Regions from separate parts of the Homo sapiens genome. Here regions 2 and 3 are each linked to region 1. Evidence: fine-mapped expression QTL. A gene starts in region 1. Each other region holds a variant in brackets. All regions are shown on one strand. Distances are from middle to middle. Region 1 holds the start of DNAAF11 (dynein axonemal assembly factor 11). Region 2 overlaps TMEM71 (transmembrane protein 71). Region 3 overlaps TMEM71 (transmembrane protein 71).

Region 1 (4,243 bases):
TTGGGAAGCACGGGGGAGAGAGAACATGTAAAAAGGGTTTGTGGCACAGCAAAAGAGGACCACTTTCTCCACCCACATCTTTCAAATCTGTCCACTCGCCTCAGTCCTGTGGGCGGCAGTGCGGTGTAATGCAGGACCCAGAGGAAATCTTCGTGGGTTCTGTTCCCAGCCCTGATAGTTACTGTGTGATTTACTCTCTGTGCCTCACCAAAGAAATAGAGATGTCAGTAATCCTTCCCTGCCTTAAAAGGCTGCTGGGAAGATCAAACAAGAGAATGCAGGTAAAGCATGTTAACCAAGCCTGGCACATCAGAGCTACTCATTGGAGGAGTGCTTGTCATCTGTCCTGTTGCCACGACCTCAGTTCAGCCTACTATCTCCCACTCGAACTCCTATAGGGCCAAGCTATGCCCATGAACAAAACCTTTTGGTTTCTCTGTGGCTCTTTTGATAAATTTCTAAATCCTAAGTACAAAACCTGTATGAGCGGATCCCTGCCTACCTGTCAGGCCTTCCTTATCTCTTTGCTCTCCACTCCTTCTTTCTGTCTCACACCAGTTCCTGTCAGTGACAATTAGCCACCAAGAAGCCCTGCTCTTTCTCACCTCTGGGCAATTCACTGAGCTTTCCTGTTTCCTTTCCAGACAGCACTGCTTCCTCAGAGAAGCCTCCACCCACCTTGGGGTTAGGTCCCCTACCCACACCCTCAGGGCACAGGCACCCCTCTCTCTCCTGGCTGTAACCACTATACTTCTGTTTGTCTTCTCCCTCCCTAGGAGGGTAGGCCCACATCTGCCTCCTTCCTCACTGTATCCTGCATTCAATACCTGATTCAAGGTAGACACTCCGATGCAAGTCTGACAAGTTAATGATTTAACAAATCAAAGTGGGCACGACTCAGAGAAAGAGGGCAAAGGAAAATTCCCGACATAAAAAAGCGAAGAAGAAGGAGAAGGAGAAGGAGGAGAAGGAGCAGGAGGAGCAGGAGCAGAAGGAGCAGGAGGAGGAGGAGCAGGAGGAGGAGGAGCAGGAGGAGGAGGAGCAGGAGGAGGAGGAGCAGGAGGAGGAGGAGGAGGAGGAGAAGGAGGAGGAAGAGGAGGAGGAGAAGGAGAAGGAGGAGGAGGAGAAGGAGGAGGAGGAGAAGGAGGAGGAGAAGGAGGAGGAGGAGAAGGAGAAGAAGAAAAAAACCAACTAGGGTGAGACCAGGGGATGGGGAGACAGCCCTGAGAAGAGAGGAAGAAATATCAGTAGCTGATTTAGGAAAGGAGTTTCAACATTTACAAATCACTCCCCCCCGACCCCCACCTCTCCCACTTGCAGGCTGTCAGGTCTTCCAGGGCAGAAAGCCCATCATCTGGAGCAGTCTCTTGATTTAAAAAAAGTTAATTATGACATTTTTACAATGATAAGTGATCAATTAGGTAGAGCTGTACAAAACTGCCATATGGGGAGCTCAAAAACGTTGTCGATATCAAAATGGTTCATACAATATAAATAACTTACCCGCATCACCTTGCAGTTTGTTAGTATATTCTTAAAGAAACACGTTTACTACCGGGCGCAGTGGCTCACGCCTGTAATCGCAGCACTTTGAGAGGCCGAGGCGGGCGGATCACCTGAGGTCAGGAGTTCGAGACCAGCCTGGCCAACATGGCAAAACCCCGTCTCTACTAAGAATACAAAAATTAGCCTGGCGTGGTGGTGCACGCTGTAATCCCAGCTACTCAGGTGGCTGAGGCAGGAGAATTGCTTGAACCCGGGAGGCGGAGGCTGCAGTGGGCCGAGATCGCGCCGCTGCACTCCAGCCTGGGCGACAGAGCAAAACTCTTGTCTCAAACAAACAAACAAAAACACGTTTATAACACTTACTGTGTCTAAAACAGTAGTATGATTGCCATTATTTTGGAGATGAAGAAGCTGAGGCCCAAGGGGTGAAGTCACTCGCTCAAAGTCACAGGAAGAGGGAGGACTTCAACCCTGGCTCCAGAGTCGGAACCCTCCACCATTAGGCTACACTGCCTTCCGGAATGAGTCCGAAGATTGCGGCTTGGAGACAGTGACTGGCCCACGTTCACAGCCAGTAAGGAGCCACTTGGCCGGAACGTGGTGTGTCTGGCGCCAAAACCCCTGCACGTTCCCCGACCCCTTTCCTGGAGTCCAGTGCCTTTCTGCCTCTTCCTCCCCTTCCCACGGCCCCGCCCATTTTACAGATTAGGAACCTGAGCTGGAAAAGGCCAGGCTGTCCGGCCAGTCTGCAGAGGACCTGGTGCAGCCGGGGCTGCGGTGCGGAGGGCCGGGTGGGGTTAGGGTCCGCCCAGGCGCGGGGGAACCGACAGCGCAGGGCGGGAGCGGGCGGCGAGGATCCCACGAGACCCGGGACTACTTCCACAAGGGGAACGATCGAGGACGGAAGGTGGAGGGGGGCTTACTCCAGCCCATGGCGCCTCTCCAGTTCGCTGACCCCGCAAGCCGGACCCGGACCTCGAATGACGCTTTTCACCCTTCACCCCTGCTCCTCAGCGCGTCCCCGTCGGAATTCAGGAGCCATGGCAACGGGGACTCTACGGCGGCCGCGCGGGACCAAAACAAGCCGCGTTTCCTGAGCTCCGCGGAGCAAGCAGAGGAGACCGCAGTGAAGGGGCTCAGCAGACAGGGGTTCCCCAACCCAAACCCAGTCTTCGTCCTCGTCGCACTTCCGACTTGCCACAGACTGCTTCCCTCTCCCTGAATCAATGGTTTAGAGTGAACAAAGTATGAGGACGCTTCTCTTTTCTGTGCCTTCCAGGCTTGCCTTCCAGACCGCCTTTGACTTTTTCCTTTTTGTGTTTGATTTACAGCTTCCAGAGCCAACAGATCTGGATTTGGCCCCCAACTCTACCAGCGGCGTGACCTTACACTTCCTTCTCCTCAGTTTGCACATCTGTAAGATGAGAAATAACCTAAGAGGATCACTGTGAAGCTTTAATTAGATAATTTGAGTGAATGAAAGACACTATGAAAACAACAGGCTCACTATAAAGATTCGTTGTCGTTGTCATATTCCAGCTTTTTAAAGTCACTCTCCAACACTCGTTTCCGGCTAACAAGCTTTCCAGAAACGCCACCCATTACCCCCTCCATCAATTTCCCTATTCTCCACTCTCTTAATTGTAAAATGTAGGAAGTATATCTCCTACAGCCCCACACTCCCCTCACGTTTCCCCAGACCCTTCTCCAAAAGTGTGCAACGCGCCTTCTCCCATTCTAAACTAGGAAGCACATCAGCAAGCTCATTCACCCTCAGATCTTAGTGTTAGCACTTTAATGCGTTAGCTTCCCAAGAATCTTTAAAAGGTACCATTATTATGAAAGTAATTATTATTCTTTACTCCATTTGCAGAAAAAGGAGGGGGGCAATATGTAAAAGGTAAAACCTTCTCCCATCCCAGTCGTTTTAAACAGTATGGAGTGCGTGCTTCTTATCTTGATGTGTGTATTATGTTTGCATTTTAAAAGAAGATTCCTAGAGCAATGCTGAGTGCAAAGAAATTAATTTTTCTAGCGAATAGCTGTTAAGCATTTACAGCTGGCAATTATTAGAGTTTGCCAGGTAGAGACAAGGTCATGAACTTGGACAGAGAGGCAGGAAAGTCTAACAGAGTGAGGTGATGGGGGGAAGCAGAAACATCAGTTTGGCAATAAAGAGAGCTAGATAGAAGGGATCTTCGAACAGTAAGAATGAGAGATTAGATCGGGGGTAATGGGGGCCTTAAATGCCAGGCCAAAGGAACTGAACTGGAAGAGTGGGATTTCAGGCACTATTTCCCTGAATATTTGGATTTCCAAGGAGGCCTCCCAAAAGGCACTCAAACTATAAACTTACCTGACATCCACTATTATTTTTCTGAAAGCAGGTTAGTGTGAGGTGAACAGTATTAGCTCTGGCATTGGAAACATAGATTAAATACACAGATTTATTACTGTGTGGCATCAGACAGATGACTTCACCTTTGAAAGCTGAAACTTCTCTATTTCCACATGATGATGACAATATGGGTAAACATCTGTGGTCGTGCCACTGACACGCTGACACTGACACGTGACACTGAGCACTGATGTCTGATTACTCACAAAGGAGATGAAATGCTATTAGCAGCAGGCAAGTTTAGCAAATTCGCCTGTGCTTGAATTGTGCATTTTAACAACAAGGGGTTCATCAAGGCTAAAAAGGATCTAGCTTCTAGAAGGAAGCTACTACTGGGCA
Region 2 (4,243 bases), 52 kb after region 1:
TGCAGCCTTGACTTCTTAGGCTCAGGTGATTCTCCCACCTCAGCTTCCCAGCTAGCTGGAAATTCAGGCATGCACCACTATGCCCAGATAATTTTTTGTAGAAATGGGGTCTCACCATGTTGCCTAGGCTGGTCTCCAACTCCTGGGCTCAAACGATCCTGTCACCTCAGCCTCCTGAGTAGCTGGGACTACAGGCATGAGACACCATGACTGACTAATTTTTGTATTTTTTGTAGAGACAAGGTCTCACTATGTCACCCAGGCTGGTCTGGTACAACCTTTTAAAGAGTAACACAGACACAGAAGAGAAGAGACAACAAAAGACAGAGAATGCCAGGATCCTGCACTGTAAGCCTGGAATTTTCATTAAGATGAGCCAATAAATTCTATTGATTAATCCACTTTGAGTTGGGTTTCCATCCATTGGAACTCAAAAATCTTCAACTGATACAACTGATGTATCTGCCTATATCTTTGGCACCTGGAAAAGAACACACATGCAATACCTACATGTGAAGGGCTTAATGGAAGATGGAGACCTTGTCCACCCAGGACTTCATAGCTTAGTGAGAAAGAGGAAAATAAACAGTTTCTATAGTGATATATAGAGTGCTAGGGAATCAAGGCGAAGTGAAGCGCTACCTCCACCAGCCAGAAGGGGGTAGAGAAGGTGCATAGAGGTGGTCTCATTTAATTTGAGACTTGAGGAAGAGTAGGAGGCCACCCAGGTATAGCAGGTGGGAGAGAGATTCCAGACCCAGCAAAGAGCTTATATTTGTTCTTACAAAACTCTTGGCAAAGAGTACAAAGGTTAACTTTACCTGTCTGAATCTGAATATTCTTATGTGTAAAATGGAGGTAGCACACTTATTAATTGGTCCACCAGTAATGAAGCATCATCTCTGTGCCTATGTGGGCATTTTGGAATTCACAGATGACAATGACCTAGTGCTTATCTTTAAGGAGCTCACAGAGGCAAACATGCAGTGACAGTGCAAATAATGGGCATGAGAAAGAGAAGTCCTGGGAGCTAGGGGAGCACCAAGAAGGGTGGGCTCCCTGGAGGAGGTGGCTATTGAGCCTTCTTAGGTGTTGATAACCTGTCATTTCAACACCTGGAAAGGGAACTATAAAAAAACAAAAACCAAACCAAAACAAAAAAAACCCTTGAACACTTATCTAGTAGCTGCACTAGGAACAAAATGTACAAAGCATATTGATCTTCAGGACTAGAAGAGTGATGGCCAGTGAAGTGAATATTTATGATTTTTTGAAAGCAAATAAACAGAAAATATTTTTTCCATTTAACTTCAATGTTATGTAACAATAACTTCACATTTACTGAGTATTCAATAGACATGACATAGTATGCTAAGTACTTTACATGAGTTATTTTAGTCATGACAAGGTAGGAATTATGATCCTCTCCATGTAGAGATAAAAATGAAGTTTGAGAGGGTTTGGTAAACTGCTTCTGAGTTATAGCTAAGGAGTAGGGATCTGGGCTTTTAATCTCAGCAAGCCAATGACAGAGTGGGCTCTTTCACCTTGGTGCAGCACCATGTCCAAACATGCTTAATCTGACATTAGCAAACCAGAGACTAAGGGACATGCTTGTTGAATTTATTACAGCTTTGCTCCTGCCAGAAAATACCAATGCCTTTATTATCTTTTGACTTTTCCTTGTCAGAAGCATAGCATTAAAGGATGTTCTTTTTGTTGTTTCCTCTTCTTCTTCTT[C/T]TTTTTTTTTTTTTTGGAGTCTTACTCTGTCACCCAGGCTGGAATGCAGTGGTATGATCTCGAGTGATCTCGACTCACTGCAACCTCCACCTCCCAGGTTCAAGTGACTCTCCCTGTCTCAGCCGCCAGAGTAGCTGGGATTACAGGCATGTGCCACCATGCCCAGCTAATTTTTCTATTTTTAGTAGAGATGGACTTTTGCCATGTTGGCCAGGCTGGCCTCAAACTCCTGACCTCAGGTGTTCCACCCGCCTCAGCCTCCCAAAATACTGAGATTACAGGTGTGAGCCACTGTGCCTTCTTATGTAGTATGTCCAATACACAGCTAAGAATTAAAATAGCAAACATCTGTGTATCTTCCACTTTGCTTTATTGAAGCCTAACATTTTACAAAATATTCTCAGAATTTTTTTTTTTTTTTGAGATGGAGTCTCGCTCTGTCACCCAGGATGGAGTGCAATGGCGCGATCTCAGCTCACTGCAACCTCTGCCTCCTGGGTTCATGCAATTCTCCTGCCTCAGCCTCCCGAGTAGCTGGGACTATAGGCACCCGCCACCATGCCCAGCTAATTTTTTGTATTTTTAGTAGAGACAGTGTTTCACCATGTTAGCCAGGATGGTCTTGATCTCCTGACCTTGTGATCCGCCCGCCTCGGCCTCCCAAAGTGCTGGGATTACAGGCCTGACCTGCCGTGCCCGGTCTCTGAATATTTTTTAAGTAAAACACTGCAGATCCAGTTACTGATGCCTCTAACATGACACCCAAAGGCAGTCATCTCCTCTGCAAAGGGTCACCTGGGCTTTGGCAGAGGCCCCATGTCCTCCCTTCCTCGCACAGGTTGGTACCAGCTCCTAACTGCATTTTAGTCATCTCCAAGTCATTCTCAGGCTCTGAAAGGAAGAATTCTTTGGGTGTGGCAAATATTTAAAACACCTGAACTCACCTGAATGATCCGAACTATTCTCTTGGAAACGTTCAGAAGCTGTCAACTGGGACTGAAGAGACAAGCTATGGGAGTTTCCTCCAGGAGGCTGAGATATGATGTGGCTGGAAGAGGAGGTGATCACAGACTCTGCATTCATCTTCCCTGACTCCCAGTCATCAGTCAGAGAAGAACAGTCTAAATCATCTGCTGAAAAAGCAGAGGGGTTCAGTGTGAGTGTGTGTGTGTGTGTGTGTGTGTGTGTGTGTGTGTTCAGTGACTGCTCAATGCACAGTTAGTTCCTAATAATCACAAAAATAGTAATATTGATACGGTATTGCACTACCATAGTGGGATGGGAGAAGGATTTTTGGATGAGATGAGATGATGTATTCGTCTGTTTTCATGCTGCTGATAAAGACTTTCCTGAGACTGGGTAATTTATAAAGAAAAAGAGATTTAATGGACTCACAGTTCCACATGGCTGGGGAGGCTTCACAATCATGGTGGAAGGCAAGGAGGAGCAAAGTCACATCTTACATGGATAGTGGCAGGTAAAGAGAGAATAAGAGTCAAGTGAAAAGAGAAATCCCTTGTAAAACCATCAGATCTCATGAGACTTATTCACTATCATGAGAACAGCATGAGAAAGACCCATCACCATGATTCAATACCCTCCCACCAGATCCCTCTCACAACATGTGGGAATTGTGGGAGCTACAATTCAATATGAGATTTGGGTGAGGACACAGGCAAACCATTTCAAATGGCATTTCAATTTGTCTTCATACTTGAAGGTTGAAGAGAAATATCTTCAGTGCAGAGATAAACAAAGGCCAGAGGCATCTTCAATGACACTGAAGTTTGTATAGATGGATTTAAAGGATATGTAGTCAGTATATGAACCTCACATCTTTATAGGACCAAACTTTACAGCAGTCAACTCTTTCTACTTCTGATTCATTTATTCATTCAACATTTATTGAATGTGACTATATATTAGAAACTGACCTAGCTGCTGGGATATAGTGGTGAATTAGAACAACATCTCTGTCCTTACATATTGCTGAGTGGCAGGGAAGAAAATATCTTGTGATAAGTGTCATGAAGGAAATTCTGCCTCTATAAAATACATTGAAATGCCTAGATAAAATATAGCAACCATCTGTTTAAATTTTTTTATTCAAAGAGGCTATTTCATACACACATAGCTTCAAGAACATGCACCCATTTTCTCCTATGATGATTCATACATAAATATATTTTACTTGCCCTAAACTTAGCCTGACATTCTCACAAAAAGTCAAGTTTATTGCAAAAGCATGCATGCAACTTCAAGTTTCAAACATGCTAAGATGATTCCTCATAACACTTGGTGTCTTCAATGTGAGGTCACCAAGGAATGAATTTTAATCCTTGATTCTTAGTTTGAGTCAGAGATTAGGGGATCCAAAACTCTATAAGCCAAAGCTTCCTTGGAAAGGATGAATGTGTTAAGAATGCCTTTCAACCACAGGGATAGTTAAGCACCACACCTCTGACTCAACCACTGGAAGTCTCCCATTTGGCTCACCTGGCAT
Region 3 (4,243 bases), 64 kb after region 1:
TATTGGTCGTCAGGGGCTGGTGGGGAAGGAGGAGTGACTGCGAGTGAGTATCAGGTTTCTTTTTGGGGCTGATGGAATGTTCTGGAACAGGAAAGCAGTCGTGATTGCATGGCCTCCCTGTGACTATACTAAAAAATCGCTGAATTGTATACGTTAAGTTGGTAGATTTTAAGGAACGTGGATTATATCTCAATTAAAAAGTAACGAGAGCTCTGTACTAAGATATTTGTGCCACTCTGTCAGAAAGAGTCAGAGAGATAACTTCTCCTTTGCCTTTGGAGGGAAGATTCCACACATAACACATCTACCAGGGACTACAGAATTCTTGAGTTGACCTCCTTATCAAGCTGTGCTTCATTAGCCAGTTCTTCATATTCTTTTCTTTCATAACACCACACTCTCTTGCTTCCTTGCCTGAGAAACTTTCCCCAAAGAGCTTTTTCCCAGGATTAAGAGCACATGCTCAGACTTTTCTCTTCAAATCCTGGCTATGCGACTTCTTACCTGTGTGGCCTCATATATAGTACCTAAGCTACCTTAGCTTCTTCCCCTGGAAAATGGGGATAAATAATAATAACTCAGAGGCTTTGCAGAGAAGTGATGACGTGACATGTGGCTTTCTTGGAACTGTGCTTGCCCCTAGCACTCACACAATTAGGGATCATTATTACTGGGGCTTCTGTTCAACCTCCTGAATTCCTTTCTTACCGCTCCTTTCTTCTCATTCACTTGTTTTCCATAAGTAGACTTCTTTATTCCAAAAAACTGTATTGCTTCTCAGATTGGCTTATGTATCAACTGTATTCCTTCTCAGATTGGCTTATGAATTACTCCTGAACCCCCTTCTTATGTTTCCAAACCTCTACTGGTTATCTATTTCCCATAAGATATCTCAAATTCAACCCATAAGAAATACAATTCATTGTCTGTTTTGATGATCCTCAGCTGTTCTTTTCTGCCTTTTTAGAGCTAATGTGTATTAAGCAGAATACCAGCCCCTGGTATTCATAAGAGATATTAGAAGTGTGACATTTTTCATGAATTATTGCATTTCATCCTCCCCATTCTATATGCTATTTTTTTATTTTATATATAAGAAGTAGAGGATCAGAGAGGTTAGTTAATAACTTGCCCAAGAACATTCAGGTGGGAAAAGCTGGTTCTAGGATTTGAATTCAGGTTCATCTAGTTCAAAAGCTCATTTTCCTTATCACTCTACCACACTATCTTCCAGCCCTTGGTGACTTGCAGAATTTTTTATGCAGTCTCCCAAATTAAATACCTCAGTTTTCTTTGATTCTCCCACGTTCTCACTACTATATTCTATCTATCACTAACCTGTCAATTCTACCTTGGAAAATATTCTTTAAGTCTCTTCCTTCCTCCCTATTTCCTGCCACTTCCTTAGGATACTGGTTGATTTTAATTGCCTCAGAGCTCCCATCCAATCCTCAATTGTGCTACTGCAAAGATAACTTGAAAATTCCAAATCTGATTGCATCATCACCCTGCTTAAGAGAATCAAAAAATATTCTTGATTGATTAGATAAAACCCCAAATCCTCAATATGGCATAAAAGGTTCTTCAAATATCTACAATTAATATTTCTGGCCTCACCCCCCACATCCCTGCTCTTTCCCCTCTCCTCTTCCTGCTTTTACACTCTTGTTATTGTGGAAAACTAGAATCACTCAATTTAAGTAATCCTTTGATCATATTAAGAACTGTTTCTTCATTTAACAAGCACTTATTGCATTCTTAAAACTAATCTAGTATTACATGCACACACACACACACACACACAGGAATATATGTAAAAATTGGTGGAATCTTCATGGCATTGTGCCAACGTCCATTTCCTGGTTTTGATAATGTGCTATAGCTGTATAAGTAGTTATCAGTGGGCAAAGCTGGGTGAAGCATACACTGACCCTCTCTATACTATTTTTTGTAACATTTTGTGAATCAAAGTTACTGAAAATTAAAAAAAAATG[T/C]TACGTGTGTCTTCTGTCTAGGAAGCAGATTAAGAAAAATCATAGCCATGTAATTATTATACACTTAAGTTAATAGATTATTGCATTATACGACTCCTCTAGCTTGCTCTTTCGGCCTGCACTATGAGGGACATGATGGATTTCTCCTTGAAAAGGAAAACAAAGCCCTTCCGGGCAGCAGAGCAGAGTCTGGACTTTTAAATCAGATAGACCTCGGTTGAATTCCAACTCTGCTGTTTTTGTTTTTGTTTTTGTTTTTGAGATGGAGTCTCGCTCTGTCACCCAGGCTGGAGTGCAGTGGCGCGGTCTCCGCTCACTGCAAGCTCCGCCTCCCAGGTTCACGCCATTCTCCTGCCTCAGCTTCCCGCATAGCTGGGACTACAGGTGCCCGCCACCATGCCCATCTAATTTTTTGTATTTTTAGTAGAGACGGGGTTTCACCATGTTAGCCAGGATGGTCTCGATCTCCTGACCTCGTGATCCGCCTGCCTCGGCCTCCCAAAGTGCTGGGATTACAGGAGTGAGCCACCGTGTCAGGCCCCAACTCTGCTGTTTATAAGCTAAATTAACTTGGGCGAGTTCCTTAACCCTGAACTTCAGTTTTATCATAATTATAATAAATATGATAATATGACCTACTTCTTATGAGTTTTGGGGATATTTAAACAAGATAATGTATGTAAACAAGCTAATATATTTTAAAAAGACAAAATGTGAAGTGCTCAGCATGGAATAAGCACCCTTGACTTCTCTTTTTCTCTCACAGCCACGTAGGCAAATCTTGTTGAGTCTACCTGTAAGACGAATCTGGAATCCTACTTCTCATCACCATTCTGCTATCATCTCAGTTCAAGCTGCCATTATCTCCCACCTGAATCACACCAATAGCCTCTTAACGTGTTTCTTGCTTCTGCTCCTAATAGCGGACATCTAATCTGAACTCAGCAGCTGGAATAATCCTTTTAACATGTAAATTGAAACAAGTTATTCCTCAGCTCAGAATCCTCCAGTGGTTTGCCCTCCACTCAGAGTATGAAAGCAAAGCCTTTGAAATGACCCCACAGCTCCCCTTGTTCTTTCCCACTTGCATTCCTGACACACCTTTCAGTCTTTTCCCTACTATCCCCCCTCACTCACTCAGCCCAGTGCAGGCTCTGAGACTAGAACTTGTACACCAGCATTTCACTTGCCTGGATTGTTCCTCCCCCAGATATCCACAGAGCTGTTTTGCTTTTGCTTTTAAGCCAATGCTCAAAAGTTCTTCTCAATGAGGCCTTCTCTAACCATTTTATTTACATTTGCAATCCCCATCACTTCCCCTTTTCTTGTTTCCCATACCACTCACCACTTATTAACATGCTACATAATTTATTTATTGTCTATCTCCCCCAGTAGAAATGCAAGTTCCACAAGAGCAAGTCATTTTGTCCATTTTATTCACCACTATGTCCATTGTGTAGGATAATGCCTGGAACATCATTGGCCCTCAATAAAATCTTCCAAATGAATTCATAAATGAATTACAGCAGAGTGAGTGACATAAGTAAAGCCACAGATGTGTGGAAGAGCAGGATCCATTCAGGAAACTGAAAGATCAGTGTGATCTGTGTCAATTGCATGTAAGGGAAAGGACAACGGTGGAGTTGAAGACGCGACCAGCCACACGGACCTTTGAAAAGTGCCATTGCACAGGGCTTCTTGCTCCCGAGGGCCTTTTTCTTGGTTTAACAGTTTTTCTTGGTTGACACTTGAGATTCTTAAGCATTTTTGAACAGGGGGTCCTGTATTTTATTCTGCACTGAGCCTGAAAATTATGCAGCCAGTTTGGGTTGGAGAAGTAGGAAATATTCAAAAGGCCTTGCATGCTGTGTTAAGGAATGATGACAACGCCACATTTATGCCTTAAAAAGGTTAGCCTCACAGCAGTTTGGAAGATAGAATGGGGAAGCTGGGAATATCATCCTAGCTCATCTCTGCCTAGCCATCCTATTCATCCTTTAAGACCCACTCAGGGCTGGGCACAGTGGCTCACACCTGTAATCCCAGCACTTTGGGAGGCTGAGGCGGGTGGATCACGAGGTCAGGAGATCAAGACCATCCTGGCCCACATGGTGAAACCCTGTCTCTACTAAAAATACAAAAGTTAGCTGGGTGTGGTGGCGCGTGCCTGTAATCCCAGCTACTCGGGAGGCTGAGGGAGAAGAATTGCTTGAACCAGGGAGACGGAGGTTGCAGTGTGTAGGGTCCAG

What was found. PIP is the estimated chance that this variant, and not a neighbour inherited with it, causes the effect. A credible set is the group of variants that fine-mapping cannot tell apart.
Region 2: its variant is the best candidate, but not a certain one, in a credible set for the expression of DNAAF11 in Th2 cells (Schmiedel 2018, PIP 0.64).
Region 3: its variant is the best candidate, but not a certain one, in a credible set for the expression of DNAAF11 in blood mononuclear cells (TOPMed, PIP 0.76).

What each region holds. Positions count from the first base shown.
Region 1 is chr8:132,673,055-132,677,297 of GRCh38, forward strand. It overlaps DNAAF11 (dynein axonemal assembly factor 11), which reads right to left and starts at 2,491. Exons shown (of 12, transcript NM_012472.6): 1 at 2,430-2,491. The coding sequence starts at 2,439. It overlaps LOC105375767 (a long non-coding RNA gene), which reads left to right and starts at 2,576. Exons shown (of 2, transcript XR_928665.4): 1 at 2,576-2,751; 2 at 2,838-3,004.
Region 2 is chr8:132,725,114-132,729,356 of GRCh38, forward strand. It overlaps TMEM71 (transmembrane protein 71), which reads right to left. Exons shown (of 10, transcript NM_001382403.1): 6 at 2,685-2,873. Among named protein-coding and RNA genes, the nearest start is that of TMEM71, 33 kb to the right of the region's middle. The variant C/T (reference allele first, on the strand shown) is at 1,741.
Region 3 is chr8:132,737,077-132,741,319 of GRCh38, forward strand. All of the region lies in intron 5 of TMEM71 (transmembrane protein 71), which reads right to left. Among named protein-coding and RNA genes, the nearest start is that of TMEM71, 21 kb to the right of the region's middle. The variant T/C (reference allele first, on the strand shown) is at 1,995.